Homo sapiens: one gene and its partner. The protein of the gene in region 1 interacts with the protein of each later gene in a pairwise test. Each region holds a gene or a part of one and is shown on either strand. Other genes may lie near its edges. The genes, in order: CPNE7 and PBX4.

Region 1 (9,322 bases):
TTATGATTGTGCCAATGAATGAAATTGGAATATAGTCTATGTATTAGATAAAAGGATTGTATCTAAATTCAATTTCCTGAAATCTGTATTTGTGCTATGGTTATACAAGAGAATATCTTTGATCTTAGGAAATATACACTGAAATAGTAAGAGGTAGGCCGGGCGCGGTGGCTCACGCCTGTAATCCCAGCACTTTGGGAGGCCGAGGTGGGCGGATCACGAGGTCAGGAGATCGAGACCATCCTGGCTAACACAGTGAAACCCCGTCTCTACTAAAAATACAAAAAATTAGCCGGGCGTGGTGGCGGGCGCCTGTAGTCCCAGCTATTTGGGAGGCTGAGGCAGGAGAATGGCGTGAACCCGGGAGGCGGAGCTTGCAGTGAACCAAGATCGCGCCACTGCACTCCAGCCTGGGTGAAGAGCGAGACTCCATCTCAAAAAAAAAAAAATATTAAGAGGTAAAACCGTGATGTTGCAACGTGCTCTCGGACGGTTCACAAATGTGTGTGTGCAGTGCCAAGTTTTTTAAAAAGCATCAAAGTCTTTATCACGATACTATCTGTATAAATTAAAAATAGATGCAAACAGATATAGGGTTCCCATTTGGCTTGAAGATGTAAGTAGACGGGTGATGTTTGATCATCATGAATGTACCTCGTGCCTCTGAACTGGATACAATAAAATGGTTACAGGCCAGGTGCGGCGGCTCACACCTGTAATCCCATCCCAGCACTTTGGGAGGCTGAGGCAGGCAGATCACTTGAGGTCAGGAGTTTGAGACCAGCCTGGCCAAGACAGTGAAACCCCATCTCTACAAAAATATAAAAATTAGCCGGGTATGGTGGCGGGCGCCTGTACTCCCAGCTACTCAGGAGGCTGAGTCAGGAGAATGGCGTGAACCCGGGAGGCGGAGCTTGCAGTGAGCCGAGATCACGTCACTGCACTCCAGCCTGGGTGACAAGAGTAAAACTCCATCTCAAAAAAAAAAAAAAAAAAAGAAAAGAAAAAAATGGTTACAATGGTAAATTTTAAACTGTGCATATTTTATCACAATAAAAAAAATTTGGGCTGGGCGCGGTGGCTCACTCCTGTAATCCCAGCACTTTGGGAGGCCGAGGCGGGTGGATCACAAGGTCAGGAGTTTAAGACCAGCCTGGCCAAGACTGTGAAACCCCGTCTCTACTAAAAATACAAAAAATTAGCCGGGCGTGGTGGCGGGAGCCTGTAATCCCAGCTACTCGGGAGGCTGAGGCAGGAGAATTGCTTGAACTCGGAGGGTGGAGCTTGCAGTGAGCCGAGATTGCACCACTACAGCTTGGGTGACAGAGCAGGACTCTATCTCAAAAAAAAAAAAAAAAATTGAAAAAGAAAACATACAAATACAACAACTACACAGACGTGAAGCAGGAGCGCAATGTGTGAGCAGCTGTTGGCCTCACGGGTTGCAGGACCTCAGAGCTCTTGTAACTTTTTGGTGAGTTTAAAATTATTTTGGGCCGGGCGCGGCGGCTCACACCTGTAATCCCAGCACTTTGGGAGGCCGAGGCGGGTGGATCACGAGGTCAGGAGATCGAGACCATCCTCGCTAACACGGTGAAACCCCGTCTCTACTAAAAATACAAAAAAAAAAAATTAGCCGGGCATGATGGTGGGCGCCTGTAGTCCCAGCTACTTAGGAGGCTGAGGCAGGAGAATGGCGCGAACCTGGGAGGGGGAGGTTGCAGTGAGCGGAGATTGCGCCACTACACTTCCAGCCTGGGTGACAGAGCGAGACTCCGTCTCAAAAAAAAAAAACAACAAAAAAAAGAATGCCGGGCACGGTGGCTCACGCCTGTAATCCCAGCACTTTGGGAGGCCGAGGCGGGTGGATCATGAGGTCAGGAGTTTGAGACCAGCTTGGCCAACAGGGTGAAACCCCGTCTCTACTAAAAATACAAAAATTAGCCAGAAGTGGTGGCGGGCGCCTGTAGTCCCAGCTCCTTGGGAGGCTGAGGCAGGAGAATGGCGTGAACCCCGGGAAGCAGAGGTTGCAGTGAGCTGGGATCACATCACTGCACTCCAGCCTGGGTGACAGAGTGAGACTCTGTCTCACAAAAAACAAAAGAAAAGAAAAGAAAGCAGCAGGCTGGCTGTGGCCCCAGAGACACATACAGGGCCACACGGTGGCAGAGTAGAATCCAGTGCAGTTCTCGGCACCGTATCATTTGTGCAAAGGAAAGACACATGTAAACAAAATGACGATACACACACAGCCAAACAGTAGACATGTGCGCGGCCTTGTGGTGCCCAGAGGAAGAGGAGAGGGGCAGCCTCGCTGCAGCCATGGCCGTGACCGTGTGAGGCGATGGACAGCCCTGTGCCCGAGACACCTGCACCTTTGAGGGAGACGTAGTCAACCAGCTGGGCCCCCGCCCTCCTGAGCTCTGTCCTGCCTGGGGGCCTCTGCGCTGGCTGTTCCCTCTGCCAGGTGCCTCCCTGACGTCCACGCGCTGGTGCACACACAGCCGACCCCACACCAAGCATGCACCACACCCCCCGGGCACCTACAGAGGCTTTCCCGGTGCTCTCCTCGGCCGCCGCCACGCGTGCCACCTTGGAGATGATGGGCGCCACGTTGGTGGGGCCGTAGAGCTGGACCCTGGGCAGGCAGTTCTGGTAGGCCTCCACCACGCCCTGGATGCCTGTGGGGGGCAGGGGGTGAGCCCGGCCCCCCTGCACTCCCCTCCCCAGGCCTGCCTCGAGCTCCTACCTTCACACTCATCGTCCTCAGGGTTGAAATTGATGGCAAAGTCATGGGACACCTGGGTGGGAACAAGAGGGCTCAGTCAGCTGCTCGTTGCAACACACCCCACTGGCCCCATGTCCCTCGGTCAGCTGCTCCCCCCGTCCCCAGCCCCCATGTCCCCCAGTCAGCTGCTCCCCCCGTCCCCGCCCTCATGTCCCCCGCCTACTAAAGAGGGCTCGGTCAGCTGCTCCCCCCGTCCCCGGCCCCCATGTCCCCCAGTCAGCTGCTCCCCCCGTCCCCGGCCCCCATGTCCCCCAGTCAGCTGCTCCCCCGACCTGGCCCCCATGTCCCCCACCTACTGAGAGAGGTAGGCTTGGAGTTTCTAGGGGAAGCCAAACCCATGGGTGACCATGTTCTGCAGAGTCATGAAACAGAGAGGGAGGCAGACCTCCCTGGATCCAGCAGTGCCTGAGGCTTACATTAGCCAATAAATCCCCACACACCATTTTTTCTGCTGAAGCCAGTTGAAGTTTTTTGTTGTTTTCTTTTTTCTTTTTTAAAACAGAGTCTTGCTCTACAGGCCAGGCTGGACTGCAGTGGTGCGATCTCAGCTCAGTGCAACCTCTGCCTCCCGGGTTCAAGCAATTCTCTTGCTTCAGCCTCCCGAGTAGCTGGGATTACAAGCATGTGCCACCACGCCCAGCTAATTTTTGTATTTTTGGTAGAGATGGGGTTTCACCATGATGGCCAGGCTGGTCTGGAACTCCTGACCTCAGGTAATCGGCCCGCCTCGGCCTCCCAAAGTGCTGGGATTACAGGCGTGAGCCACCACGCCTGGCCGAAGCTAGCTGAATTGTTATGTGCAATAGAGGATTCCACACTAACGTCCTTCCCTATCTCCTGAAGGAACACGGAGTTGGCCTCCAGACACCCCTCAAGCTAACAAGTCCTAGGAGGCCAAAGGCCAGCCTCTCTGGCTAGAAGGCTGGGGTTCCCGCTTTGCACCCCAATCCCATCCTACAGTCTCCGGTTCCCAGCAGGCAGCCAGGGCTCCCTGGGCCAGGCCGTCCTCTGCCTGGGAGGGCACGAGAAGGGCACAGCTCTGAGGTCTCAGGTTCTGGGCTCTCCTACCTCATACTTGGGAGGGATCCGGGCTCCAAACCCCAAAGCGGAAAACCTCTTGTCACTGGAAGAGAGGCAGGAGGTCACCAGGAGGCCCTGACCTCTTGTGGCTGCAACAGGGGCCACTTCTAGGGAGACATGACTGGCGCCCAAAAGACTGGGGGTGCCCAGGCCTGGTACCACGGCAGTAAGCACCTGCCAGAGGTGGGGAACCGAGGCTCAGGGCAGCAGAGGCACAGGCCTGTGTGCAAGGGGACACGGTCCTGCCGCCCGCGAGCCTGCCTCCCAACTCCACGTTTGTGTACATGCTGTCCCCCTGCAGACGCCTCCCCGGGGGCTCTCAGACCACGGGAGGGGTCCTGTGGGGCCAAGGAACCCACTGTGGCCCTCACCAACCCAGAAAGAGAGGTCTGTAGGGTAGGGAGCTCAGGGCATCCTCTCCCAAGCCCCAGGCCAGGGGTCTGTGTTGTGGTAAGAAGCTCAGAGCACAGGGTTTTGTGCCGGGCCCTCCCTGGTAAAGCATACGCGGGTGAGCCCCAAGCCTCTGTGACTTCGGTTTGCTATTCTGGCAAAGCGGGACACAGACGTCCCCCCAGGACCATGTGCAGAGTCTATGCGGCAGCCTCCAGTAGGGCTACCCAGCCCTTCCTCGCAGAGTCTCTTTTTTTTGAGACGGAGTCTTGCTCTGTCACCCAGGCTTGAGTACAAAGGTGTGATCTTGACTCACTGTAACCTCCGCCTCCCGGGTTCCAGTGATTCTCCTGCCTCAGCCTCCTGAGTAGCTGGGATTACAGGCATCTGCCACCACGCCCAGCTAATTTTTGTATTTTCAGTAGAGATGGGGTTTCACCATGTTGGCCAGGCTGGTCTCAAACTCCTGACCTCAGGTGATCCACCCGCCTCGGCCTCCCAAAATGCTGGGATTACAGGCATGAGCTACCGCGCCCGGCCCCTCACAGTCTGACAAACTCACAGTGCCCACCTCATGGTGCCCCGAGGCCTGACCTGGAGCCCAGGGGGGTGAGGGAAAACCGGCCGGGTGCACCTGTCATAGCTGACCTGGAGACCAGGGGGGTGAGGGGGAAGACGGCCAGGCGCACCTGTCATAGCTGACCTGGAGACCAGGGGGTGAGGGGAAGGTGGTGGGCGCACCTGTCATAGTCCTGGCAGATCTCGCCCACGGACACCAGTGCCTTCAGGTACTCGTTCGGCTGGTAGGGGTTGATGTAGTGCAGGGAGCAGCTGTTCCGCGGGTCTCCATTGGAGGCGGTGAAGTCAATGGCCACCTGCAGTGGGCCGGGAGCCAGGAGCTGTGCTGGGCCGGGGCTCCCCGAACCCGCTCCTGACAGGTAGAGAAACCACGCCCAGAGTGGCCAGGACTCAGGGTCAGGGGTCGCGTAGGTGGGTAGGGCTGGGGGGCTGCTGTTGGGGCTGACCCACCTGCTACACAGGGCCAGGAGAGGTCTCCTCAAAACCTGCCAGCCCCTAGGCTCCCTGGATCTCCGGGAGGACACCCCACCAGGATCACCCTGGCCTTGTGGGGGCCCCGCCCATCCTTCTTAGTGGCCGCCCAACCCCTCTACCACCCTCCCCGGCAGGGCCTAAGTGGACCAAGCCTGGTCTGGGTCCCCCCACGTTTCCCACTTGCTGGCTTCTCCCAAAGCCATTCTGGGGCTCGTTCAACAAAACACGAACCAGCGCATCTGCAAATAACACGCGGGTGACACGGGGGCCGTGTATCTGTGGGTGACACGCGGGTGACACGGGGGCCGTGTATCTGTGGGTGACACGCGGGTGACACGGGGGCCGTGTATCTGTGGGTGACACGCGGGTGACACGGGGGCCGTGTATCTGTGGGTGACACGGGGGCCGTGTATCTGTGGGTAACACGGGGGGCCGTGTATCTGTGGGTGACACGCGGGTGACACGGGGGGCCGTGTATCTGTGGGTAACACGGGGGGCCGTGTATCTGTGGGTGACACGGGGGCCGTGTATCTGTGGGTAACACGGGGGGCCGTGTATCTGTGGGTGACACGCGGGTGACACGGGGGCCGTGTATCTGTGGGTGACACGCGGGTGACACGGGGGGCCGTGTATCTGTGGGTAACACGGGGGCCGTGTATCTGTGGGTGACACGCGGGTGACACGGGGGGCCGTGTATCTGTGGGTGACACGGGGGCCGTGTTTCTGTGGGTGACACGCGGGTGACACGGGGGCCGTGTATCTGTGGGTGACACGGGGGTGCTATGGGGGTGACACGGGGTGTGCGTATCTATGGGTGACGCGGGGTCTGCGGGTGACATGGGGGTGACACGGGGTCTGTGCCGGGCTCCTTGGATGACACGTAGAGACTGTGGCTGGTTCACTCAAACGCTCACTCCAGTTTCTCCTCGTTCACGTTTTGTCTGTTGTTAAATGTGTTTGTGGAAGGTAAGCCCTGGTGATGTCACCTCCCAAGGCGGGCTTGGGGCTGCTTCCTGAACCCCAAGCCCGTTTCCTCGCCTGCGCAAAAGGGAGGACCCCCAGGAGCCGCGCATGGAGACATCGGCTCACGGGGAACCGCCAGTGCCCTTTCACCCGCCAGGCTGGGACCCCTCGGGAGCGGGGCGGGGGCGGGGGCGGGGGCGGGGCCACGGACTGAGGGGGCGGGGATGGGCGGGGCCACAGACTGAGGGGGCGGGGATGGGCGGGGCCACAGACTGAGGGGGCGGGAGGGGCGGGGCCACGGACTGAGGGGGCGGGGATGGGCGGGGCCACAGACTGAGGGGGCGGGGAGGGGCGGGGCCACGGACTGAGGGGGCGGGGCGGGGCGGGGCCACGGACTGAGGGGGCGGCATGGGGCGGGGCCATGGACTCACGGTGAAGTGGATCTGGCAGCCGCCCATGATATAGTCCAGGAAGGAGTACACCCTGTGGAACTTCCGGCCGGCGGAGTCAGCGTCCACCCCCGCCAGGGACACTGAGGCCAGTGCCAGCTGGGATCCAGGCCTGCCTCCCGCAGGCAGCCCAGTCCCTCTGGGGTGCCACCCTCCTCTCCTCTCCCCCATCCTCTCTCCCCAACCTCGCCCTTCCCCGTCTCTCAGCCCCTCCCCAGACGTGCTGGGGCCCACCAGGCCTCTGGTTGAGGGTCCATCCAACAATCAGAGGGAGGCAGCGGAAGCCCCTCTTGTGGGTGGGGAGGCTTCGGGCACAGCCACCTCTCACCTTGAGGTCAGCCAGGACGACCACTCCTGAGTTCTTATAACTGCGTCTCTTCTGCTTGTATTTGGGGTTCACACAGTCCCACTGGGCCTGGGGCAGGAACAAGCAGAGGCCCCCCAGAGTGGTGGCTCTGAACACCTACCAGGGAGACCCTACCCAAGACCATCCCCAATAGCGACGGCAGAGGGCCCCGTGGTGGGGAGGGGAGGGGAGGGCACTGCTGCAGGGCAGCAGGAAGGGGCAGAGTGGGTCATACGGGAATGAAGAGGGATGGGAGTTGCATCCCCCACCCGGCATGGCCCTGTCATTAAGCCCAAGGACACTGAGGCCCAGGGACGGGGGAGGAAGCAGGGCCCAGGGTGGCCTCCCCACTGCACCCTCACCCGGCTGCTGTGGGCTGGGCAGACACAGGGGAGGGCACCCCTTGGCCCCACCTCCCACCACCCCTGTGCCCAGACCCAGATGGTGCCTGAAATGTCCAGCTGAACCTGATGGGGGCCACCCCTGCTATGACCCCTCAGGAGCCAGCACCAGGGTCCACCATCCTCAGCCTTCTCTGGTTATAACAAGTCATTGTCACCACTCCCCACAACCCCATCAGGACAGTGGGACAGGGTTTCACAGCCTCTGTGGCAGGGCCAACACAGGCGTAGCCCAGGTGTGCCCCCGACTCACCTGCCCCTCCCCAGAGGCCCCCCTCACCTGCCCCTCCCTGAATGCCCCCTCCCCCTGCTAACTGCCCCTCCCTGGAGGCCCCCCTCACCTGAACCTCCCCAAAGGCCCCCCCAACCTGCTCCTCCCCAGAGGTGCCCACCCACATGCCCCTCCACGGAGGCCCCTACCCCACCCCCCACCTCCTCACCTGACACTTCCTGGAGGTACCCCCCCAGTCCTGCTCACCTACCCCTCCCCGAAGGCCCCCCTCCACCCCCACCTGACCCTCCCTGGAGGACCCCCTACCCCGTCCTGCTCACCTGCCCCTCCTCAAAGGCCTTCTGCATCTCCTCGAAGGTGGTAGAGAATTCTCCGATGAAGTCGTGCTTTCCTCGAGAGTCGTAATCCCAGACCAGGCACTGGGGAGCCCAGTCCTCCTCAGCACTGCTGTCTGGGGGCCCCAGGACCCTCCCACCCGAGCCCAGGTGTCTCCATCGCAGCCCACATCCAGGCCACCCCCTCACTGCCCCCTTGGTCCATCCCGTCCCCCACCTTTAGAGGCCTTGTCTCCTCGCAGCTGCAGAGGGAACTCAGAGAGACTTTGAAGGCCTCCCACACCGGGTTCAGGTTGTTCTTCACCACCTGTGGGCCGGGAGGGGCTGGCTCAGGGGAGGCCCAGGGCCCTGGGATCCTTGGGGGGGATAGAGACCTGGGTGGAAGAGCAGCTGTGAGGCGGGCACAGCTGGCCCTGCCCCTGCATCACCCCAGACAGCGCCGGGGCCCTGAGCTGGGGCTGGCACCCACTCCCTGCACGAAGCCATGTGAGGACCCGGGAGACACATTTCCGAGCCCTGTGCCTCCACCTTCGTAACTTCTGCCACCTCTGAGCCACCTGCGCTGCTCTCTTCCTTAAATAGATTCATTTTCACTCAAGTTAATTTCTCTCAAAAGAAAGCACTCTCTCCCTGCCGTCGCTGAAATCCCATTTCACCTGCAGGAAGTGGAAGGTAGGTCTAAAAATAATCACAGCCACGACTACACAAGCCTGCTGGATTCTGGCCACAGCCACGGCCCCCAGGGCCCTGCGCCTGCGGCTCCCTGTTGGATTCTGGCCATAGCCACAGCCACCAAAGCCCTGCGCCCACAGCTCCCTGTTGGAGGCTGGGAGCTCCTCCCATGTGGCCAGAGATGCGTGAGGGCTGGGGACAGCCCCTTCCCCTCCCTGTGTTCCCATCCCCGGCCGCTCACCTCCGTCCTGTACACCAGCTGCAAGCCCTGGTCGTCGTTGACCCTGTAGAGCTCCAGGAAGGGGTCGGACTTGCTGAAGAGGTCCTGGGGAGAGGCACAAGGGCTGCTGGGCCAGGCACTGTGAGATCGGGCTTTGGATGGGAGCTGGCTTTGTCGTTTCCCAGGGCTCACTTCATGCCACCAGCCGCTAATTCCTCAGGCACAAAACGAGGCAGCCAGTCCCCGCCGACAGCATCTCGTCCCTCCCTCCCGCCCCCAGGGATCTGACCACGGCGGGCAACTCAGCCCTCCATGGAGTCACCCTGCACACCCTGCGACTCAGCCCTCCACGGACTTGCCCTACACACCCTGCGACTCAGCCCCTCCAGGGAG
Region 2 (9,322 bases), on another chromosome or scaffold:
GAATCAAAAGTCCTGAGTGGCCAGGCACAGTGGCGCCTGCCTGTAACCCCACACCTTGGGAGGCTGAGGCAGGAGGATCACTTGAGCTCAGGAGTTCAAGGCCAACCTGGGCAACATACTAAGACCTCATCCCCCCAAAAATAGTCCTCAGCGACCCCTAGACATGGTGGTGTGTGCGGAAGCTGAGGTGTGAGGATCACTTGAGCCCAGGAGTTTGAAGCCAATCTGGGCAACACAGTGAGACTCTGTGTCTTAATTAAAAAAAAAAAAAAATAAAAAATAAAAAATTAAAAATGTCGCCGGGCATGGTGGCACATGGCTGTAATCCCAGCACTTTGGGAGGCCGAGGCGGGCGGATCACCTGAGGTCAAGAGTTCAAGACCAGCCTGACCAACAGGGTGAAACCCTGTCTCTACTAAATACAAAAAATTAGCCGGGTGTGGTGGCAGATGCCTGTAATCCCAACTACTCGGGAGGCTGAGGCAGGAAAATTGCTTGAACCTGGGAGGCAGTGAGCCGAGATTGCGCCATTGCACTCCAGCCTAGGCAACAAGAGTGAAACTCTGTCTAAAAAAAAAAAAAAAAGAGTCCTGAGCATGGCCCTCAAAGCCTAGGCAGATGGGGGTAGGGAGGTGGGGCGACACCAGCGGTTGAAATGGACAGACATCTCAGCTGCACTGGCAACAGTTGGTATCAACTCTTGTTTTCCCTCCTGAAACTGCTGAATTTGAGACTAACAGACTCATGCAGTAACATCCACACAGGGGCAGATGGAATTATGAAGAGGCGTGCCCAGGCTGAACACCCACACTCTCAAAAATTGGTTTCTCGTTCAGCCCCAGCAGCTCACTGGTAGGAAGGTCAAGAATGACAGCTTCCTGAGACTACAGTTGATTAAAGTACTTTTTTTTTTTAGACAGGGTCTCACTCTGTCACCCAGGCTGGAGTGCAGTGGCGCAATGTCATCTCACTGCAACCTCTGCCTCCTGGGTTCAAGTGATACTCCTGCCTCAGCCTCCTGAGTAACTGGGATTACAGGCGCATGCCACCACGCCCAGCTAATTTTTGTATTTTTAGTAGAGACGGGGTTTCATCATGTTGGTCAGGCTGGTCTCGAACTCCTGATCTCAGGTGGTCCAACTGCCTCGGCCTCCCAAAGTGCTGGGATTACAGGCGTGAGCCACCGCACCCAGCCTTTAAAAAGTACTTTTTAAAATAGTTTTTTATTATTACTAAATTCCAGATGTTGCATTGCTAAACATCCGCTGTGGGCAGTGGGGAGCCCCCAAAGGCTGCTTCCTGGGGTCAGGGTCAGGGGTGAGCAAGGGACAACTTGGGCTGCCTGTGCCTATTGGTACACATGCCTCAGCAAGTGGTCCTGACACTGGCTTATTTTTATTAGGTGAAAAGTGAAAGGGACCAACATTACACAATTCCACAATACTAAGAAACACGTGACCACAGCCAGTGTCTCCAGGGGGTGGATACACATTGGCTGTGTCCTTCTGAGCGGCTTCCCTCAGCCTGCAGTACTTGGGGCTCATTCGGGTACAGGGCCCCCGCTTGTCCAGCTTACCACACGAATGCTGAAGCACCATCAGGGAGTGCTGCCAGGGAGTTGAGGGCAAATTTGCTTAAAACCAGTTCACCGCTAACAAGAAACTTGTGTGTCTGGTTCCCCAGGAAAGCCTAACCTTTGTGTTTCCATTTCCATGGCATCTGCTCCCCACAATTTAAATAAGGAACAGATAAGACAGGTCATCAGATATTTACATACCCATGAGAGGCATATGAGGTGGGCAGGAAGCCAGGGGCATCACAGCCCAGCATCTGGCCCCGTCGGGAGGATGACCTGGCACTGGGTGTTGGAGACCAACAGGGGGCATATCATGTGGGGGCTGTCAGCAGCAGCAGTCTGCTGGGGGGTGGGGACAAGGAGGGGTCTGCTTGGCTGGGGGATTAAGTATACTTGGGGGTGAAGGAGGTGGGAGATTGATTACACAAGCAAAAGTACTGAGGACAACAGGAGCAGGCTCTCACTGTTGGAGGAAGGAGTCACAAACCTGGGAAGAGAGAAAAATAGTGGGAACCCTGTGGTGAACTAGAATTAAAGATATTGGAGTGGGCCAGGTACAGTGGCTCATGCATGTAATCCCAGCACTTTGGGAGGCCAAGGTGGGAGTATTGCTTGAGCCCAGGAGGTTGAGGCTGCAATGAGCTGTGACTTCACCACTGCATTCCAGCCTGGTGACAGAGTGAGACCCTGTCTCAAAAATAAAAATAAGCTGGGTGCGGTGGATCACATCTCTAATCCCAGCACTTTGGGAGGCTGAGGCGGGCAGGTCACTTGAGGTCAGGAGTTTGAGACGAGTCTGGCCAACATGATGAAACCCTGTCTCTACTAAAAATACAAAATTAGCCAGGCGTGGTGGTGCACACCATAATCCCAGCTACTCAGAGGCTGAGGCAGGAGAAATGCTTGAACCTGGGAGGCTGAGATTGCACCACTGCACTCCAGGCTGGGCAACAGAGTGAGAATAAATAAATAAATAAATAAATAAACAAACAAAAATAAAGATATCATAATGAACTCATGGTTTTTAATATATAAAAACATAGGAAAACAGATGTGAATGTGTGCGCACGTGTGTGTGTGTACACACGCATCTGTAATAACCCACAAATATTCCTTAGCTCTGTGTCCTAAGAGTGTCCAAGAGCAGCAACACCCCAACAGCAATGAGCACATCAAAGGCCAAGATTTACTCTGAAAGGAATCAGGGCTCCTTAGAGAATTGGGTGAAGCAGGCAGAGGCAGAACAGAATATGAGCCTGGTTGGGCACAGTGGCTCACACACATAATCCCAGCATTTTGGGAGGCCAGGAGTTTGAGACCAGCCTGGGCAACATGACAAAACCCTCTCTCTACAAAAAATACAAAAATTAGCTGGGCAACGTGGCTCGTGCCTGTAGTCCCAGCTACTTGGGAGGATGGGGTGTGAGGATCACCCACCCAGGAGGCTGAAGTGAGCCAAGATTATGTCACTGCCCTCCAGCCTGGGTGACAGAGTGAGACCCTGTCTCCAAAAAAAAAAAAAAAAGGCCAGGTGTGATGGCTCACGCCTGTAATCCCAGCACTTTGGGAGGCAGACAGGCAGGCGGATCACCTGAGGTCAGGAGTTCAAGACCAGCCTGGCCAACATGGTGAAACCCCATCTTTAATAAAAAATACAAAAAATTAGCTGGGTGTGGTGGCAGGCGCCTGTAATCCCGGCTACTCAGAGGCTGAGGCAGGAGAATTGCTTGAACCTGGAAGGCGGAGATTGCAGTGAGCCAAGATCGTGCCATTGCACTCCAGCCTGGGCAATAAGAGTGAAACTCCATCTCCAAAAAATAAAAATAAAAATAAATTTACACTGGGGAGGGTTAGGGACATCATGTCCTCATAGCATTTAGGCGAAACTTAAATGTAGATTTAAACTTGAATTTCTCCTTTAGTCACCAGATCTCTTCTGAAGGCTGGGCACCATGCCCACAGCCTTACATATATGAATTCACACAGCCCTCAACAGTCCTCAGTAACCATGAGCTAAGTATTATTATTGCCCCACAAATCAGAGGAGGACCAGGAACAGAGAAAGGTTCAGCCAAGGACCAGGGTCATGCAGCCAGAGGTGGAGGCAGAATTCAGACCCTCTTGCTGTTCTCAACTACTATATATGTCAAGTACACATCAATCTTGCACCAAAACAGTGTTCAGAAAGAAGCACACTTTTGTACAACATATACACACACTTTCCACAAGCCTCAGCAAATATGAAGTGCTATGCTCCAAAGTGACACACAAAATTCAAATAATTGACCTCAAGAGACCAACTCACTCTAAGAAATCAAGTGACACGTTGTGCAGATGACCCTTGGTTTAAATATCTTCATCTTATTTGGTGGCCCCACTTATAAGCTACTTTCAAATTGTTATTAACCTTGACCAAGTGATCAAGGTCAATGGTAGCAGTGACAGGACATATTGACAGCATGTTTTCCCTGACACAATGTGCTGAGGACACACACATTGCCTCTGTGGGACTCTGGCCACAGATGCACAACTTCAGTCCAATCTAGAGGAAACATCAGACAAACCGCACTGAGGGATGTTCTACAAAATGACTGAGCGCTTCTTAAAATGGTCAGCGTCATTCATGGATGACAAGGTCACAGATCACAGGAGACCAAAGAGACATGATGACTAAATACAACGTGGGATTCAGGGCAGAAAAGGGCATTAGGGCAAAAACTGGGGAACTCCAAATGAGGTCTGTAGTTCAGTTAAAGATCATTGTACTCAGCGTAATTTCCTGGTTTCCATATTTGTACTATGGCTCTGAAGGTGTTGACGAGACAGGAAGCCCGGAGAAGGAGATACGAGAACTCTCTGTACTATTTTTTCAACTTTTCTTTTTCTTTTCTTTCCTTTTTTTTTTTTTTTTTGAGACGGAGTCTTACTCTTCTTGCCCAGGCTGGAGTGCAATGGCGCGATCTCGGCTCACTGCAACCTCCACCTCCTGGGTTCAAGTGATTCTCCTGCCTCAGCCTCCCAAGTAGCTGGGATTACAGGCATGTGCCACCATGCCTGGCTAATTTTGTATTTTTAGTAGAGATGGGGGTTTCACCATCTTGGCCAGGCTGGTCTTGAACACCTGACCTCGTGATCCACCTGCCTCGGCCTCCCAAAGTACTGGGACTACAGGTATGAGCCACTGTGCCCAGCCGACAAAACTGTTCTTATTCAATTTCCCTAAGTCTGTCATTTTTCCTTTTTCTATATGACTGAATGCTAAGCACCTCTTAGGTCTTCGACCTAGAATGCAGCTGCTTGTTACTGATTTGCAACAGTATTTCTCAGTTATAAACTACAAAATAAATCAGTGTGCATACTGGAAACCAGGGCAATGATAAGGCAGAAAGAAAACATCCTAGCCGTCTTCTGCGAGACAGAAGGGATGAGCAAAACGGCCCACCATGCACATAAGGGCTGAGACAAGATCAGAGGTGTGCTGCCGCAGCTCTAGTCACACACAGGAAGTGCCTTTTTTTTTTTTTTTTTTTTTGAGACAGAATTTCACTCTTGTTGCCCAGGCTGGAGTGCAATGGCGTGATCTTGGCTCACCGCACACTCTTGTTGCCCAGGCTGGAGTGCAATGGCGCGATCTTGGCTCACCGCAACCTCCACCTCCCAGGTTCAAGCGATTCTCCTACCTTAGCCCCCCGAGTAGCTGGGATTACCGGCATGCGTCACCACGCCTGGCTAATTTTTGTATTTTTAATAGAGACAGGGTTTCTCCATGTTGGTCAGGCTGGTCTGGAATCCAGCCTCAGGTGATCTGCCCGCCTCCGCCTCCCAATGTGCTGGGATTACAGGCATGAGCCACCACGCTCGGCCAGAAAGTGTCTTCTAAACAGCCTACCTGTCTTTTCCTTGATCTCACAGAGCACGCTGAACAGAGCAGGCTTCATCCGATGGCAATTCAGAGCATGCTTTCTGAAAGGGAGGTGACAGAGGAGGGTGTGAGAAAAGAATAGTCATCATCTTGTCCCCAAGAGTAAAGATCTTCCATACTGAGAAATCAAACCAAACGAGATCTGCCACTCTGACTGTAGATAAGTCGCCTTATGAAAATGCAGTACAATCATATTTCATGTGAATTTGATTTGCACAAAATCAATATAAAGGCCAGCCGTGGTGGCTCACGCCTGTAATCCCAGCACTTTGGGAGGTCGAGGCAGGTGGATCACTTGAGGTCAGGAGTTTGAGACCAGCCTGGCCAGCATGGTGAAACCCTATCTCTATTAAAAATACAAAACTTGGCCAGGCACAGTGGCTCATGCCTATAATCCCAGAACTTTGGGAGGCCAAGGCAGGCGGATTGCCTGAGGTCAGGAGTTCGAGACCAGCCTGGCCAGCATGGTGAAACCCTGTCTCTACTAAAAATACAAAAATTAGTTGGGCATGGTGGTGCCCACCTGTAATCCCAGTTACTCAGGAGGCTGAGGCAGGAGAATTGCTTAGACCCGGGAGGCAGAGGTTGCAGTGAGCCGAGATCAGGCCACTGCACTCCAGCCTAAGTGACAGAGTGAGACTCCATCTCAAAAAAAAAAAAAAAAAAAATTCGCCAGGAACAGTGTCATGCACCTGTAATCCCAGCTACTCAGGTGGGTGAGGCAGGAGAAATGCTTAAACCTTGGAGGCAGAGGTTGCAGTGAGCCAAGATTGTGCCACTGTACTCCAGCCCAGGCAATAGAGTGAGACTCTGTCTCAATAATAATAATAATAATAATGTAAAGCAATATACAAATATTCAAAACATTTCCCACTATATGCAAAAGTTTAAACAATGCAAATAACTCATCAAAAACTATGGTAAGGCATTAGTGGCTCATGTCTGTAATCTCAACGCTTTGGGAGGCCAAGGCAGGAGGACCACTTGAGCCCAGAAATTTAAGATCGGCCTGGGCAACATGGTGAGACCCATTCTCTTCAAAAATTTAAAAATTAGCTGGGCATGGTGGTATGCCTGTAGTCCCAATCCCTCAGGAGGCTGAGACAGGAGGATGGCTTGAGACCATGAGTTAGAGGCTGTAGTGAGCTATGAACATGCCACTGTACTCCAGCCAGCATAACAGAGGCCTTGTCATTAAGAAAAAAAAAAAAAGGCCAGAGGCAGTGGCTCATGCCTGTAATCCCAGCACTTTGGGCGGCCGAGGCGGATGGATCGCCTGAGGTCAGGAATTTGAGACCAGCCTGGCCAACATGGTGAAACCCCGTCTCTACTAAAAGTACAAAAAAGCTGGGCGTGGTGGTGCACACCTGTAATCCCAGCTACTCGGGAGGCTGACACAGGAGAATTGCTTGAACCAGGGAGGCAGAGGTTGCAGTGAGCTGAGATCGCACCAGTGAACTCCAGCCTGGGCAACAGAGAGAGACTCCATCTCAAAAAAAAAAAAAAAAAAGAAAGAAAAAAAAAGAACTATGAAATATCAAGGTCCAACAACTTGAAATCTGTGTTCACACTATGGTCCTGCAGTGGTGTATCCTGGTGCCTAAGCAGAAGCACCAATCATCCTCTTCCAGTGTCACTTGGCAGGTGTTTACTGAGTACCTACTATGTGCCACACACCATTCTGGCATCAGAGACACAGACAGGTAAGGTTTTTACACATGTGGCAGTTAAGAGGGAGGGAGTGAGACACCAAAAATACACACCAACAAGAAACCCATCAGCCGTGGCAGTTGCTCTGGGGCAACTGGGGTCACATGACAGTGATGGTTAGAAGGCTTTTTGGAATTTCCATGTCTCTGAGGTGACATCAAAGCTGAGATCAGAATGAGAAGGAGAAATCAACCAAGAAAAGGACTGGAGAGAGGTATGGTTTAGGCAGAAGAAACAGCCAAGCACAAAGGCCCTGTGAGAACACACTGGGTTCAGTACTGGCTGTTTGAGACCAGGCTGCTGAGTGTTAGGGGTGAGGGAGAGAGCTACGAGAAGTTAGACTGGCAAGTGGAGATTGACTCTAAGGGCCTTGAAAGTCATGGGGACAACTCTGGCTTTTGCTTGCTTGGGTTGGGAACTATGGTTGGCAGGATAATGGCTCCCAAAAGGGTCCACATGCTTATCCTCAGAACCCTAAATATGGTACTTTACAAAAAATGGGAAAAATAATTCTGCCAATGTAATTAAGTTTAAGGACCTTGAGATGGAGAGATTAACCCGGATTATCTGGGGGGGCCTACTGTCATCACATGACCCTTAAAGGTAGAGAACCTTTCCCAGATGTGGGCAGAGAAAGTCATGATGATGTAAGGGTTGGAGAGATACTATGTTGCTGGCCTTGATCATGGAGGAAGGGACCATGAGCAAGGAATGCAGGTGGCCTCAACAGGCTGGAAAAGGCAAGGAACCAGCCCATGGGCTCACTGGGCAACACCTTGATTTTAGCCCACTGTGCCCATGTGGGCTTTCTGACCTACCGAAATGTAAAATCGGTGGCTCATGCCTGTAATTCTAGCATTTTGGGAGGCCGAGGCAGGCAGATCGCTGGAGCTCAGGAGTTTGAGACCAGCCTGGGCAACATGGCGAGACAATGAGCTGGGACAAGAGGCACGCACCAACACACCTGGCTAAATTCTGTATTTGTTGTAGAGACAGGGTCTCGTTATGTTGCCCAGGCTGCGCTCAGCCAAGAGAAGAATTTCATGGAGAGAAGAGTAATCTGTGAGAAATGCTGCTGAGAGATCAAGCAGAATAAGAACCCAGAAGAGAATCTGAGGCTGGGCACGGTAGCTCACGCCTGTAATCTCAGCACTATGGGAGGCTGAGGTGGGAGGACCAGTCTAGGCAACATAGCAAGAACCTGTCTCTAATAAATAAATAAATAAATGAATAAAGAGAATTCGGATTTAGCAACATGAAGGTCATAGGTGACTCAGCGGAGAGGGAACAAGGTTGGGAGAGAATGTGGAGGTGAGGAGGAAGCGGAAGCAGCAATCACAAAGTCTTTGATGTTTATCATAAGGGAGATCAAACAAACATAACAGGTGCTAAAAGACAGGGTGTGTGTTAATCATGTTTTTTTTCTTTTTCTTTTTGAGACAGGGTCTTACTCTGTTGCCCAGGCTGGACTGCAGTGGCCATGCTGTGCCCGAACTCAAGCAATCCTCCCGCCTCAGCTCCTGAGTAGCTGGGACTACGGGTGGTGCTACCATGCCTGGCTAATTTTTAAAAAATGTTTTTGCAGAGCTTAAGTCTCACTATATTGCCCAGGCTGTTCTTGAACTCCTAGACTCAAGAGATCCCCCCGCCTTGGCCCCTCAAAGTATTGGGATTATAGGCATGAGCCTGGACTATTAATTATGTTTTTTTTTTATCTTGCTTTGACATTGTGGGGCTTGGAGTGACTGCCCTTCCCAGGGCTAGCTTATTACTACAGACAGCAAACAACTTGCCAAAGAACATGCCATTCATATGCAAATCAACCAATCAAAAGCCCACATTCCCAATCATCTTCTTCATTTAATGCTCACACACAAAGCCAATAATTTCCCAGCCCTAAATCACCCCAGGGCCAGGTACTGACCAACTAGAGACCACTCCTCTAGCACAGAGCCTGCCAAAATTATTTAAACTATCTAACCTAAGCTTGCTCAAACTTGCCTGCCATGCCATGCCATGCCCATTCCTTCCTGAGGAAATCACTATAAAAGTTCTGGGCCGTGCTTTCCCTCTCTCCACTGTCGCCCACTGACCCAGGTGCTTCCCCATGTGGC

What was found.
Region 2: the proteins of CPNE7 (region 1) and PBX4 interact in binary tests that used the Homo sapiens proteins (3 or more experiments, as listed by UniProt).

The regions. Positions count from the first base shown.
Region 1 is NC_000016.10:89,584,486-89,593,807, reverse strand, and holds part of CPNE7 (copine-7), read right to left. Parts: intron 9,035-9,322; coding exon 8,951-9,034; intron 8,345-8,950; coding exon 8,255-8,344; intron 8,122-8,254; coding exon 8,023-8,121; intron 7,139-8,022; coding exon 7,052-7,138; intron 6,766-7,051; coding exon 6,706-6,765; intron 6,253-6,705; coding exon of another isoform or gene 6,214-6,252; exon of another isoform or gene 5,134-6,213; coding exon 5,000-5,133; intron 3,912-4,999; coding exon 3,857-3,911; intron 2,802-3,856; coding exon 2,750-2,801; intron 2,682-2,749; coding exon 2,548-2,681; intron 1,611-2,547; coding exon of another isoform or gene 1,608-1,610; exon of another isoform or gene 1-1,607. UniProt on the Homo sapiens protein: Calcium-dependent phospholipid-binding protein that may play a role in calcium-mediated intracellular processes.
Region 2 is NC_000019.10:19,593,827-19,603,148, forward strand, and holds part of PBX4 (pre-B-cell leukemia transcription factor 4), read right to left. Parts: intron 5,543-9,322; exon of another isoform or gene 5,540-5,542; coding exon 5,466-5,539; intron 1-5,465.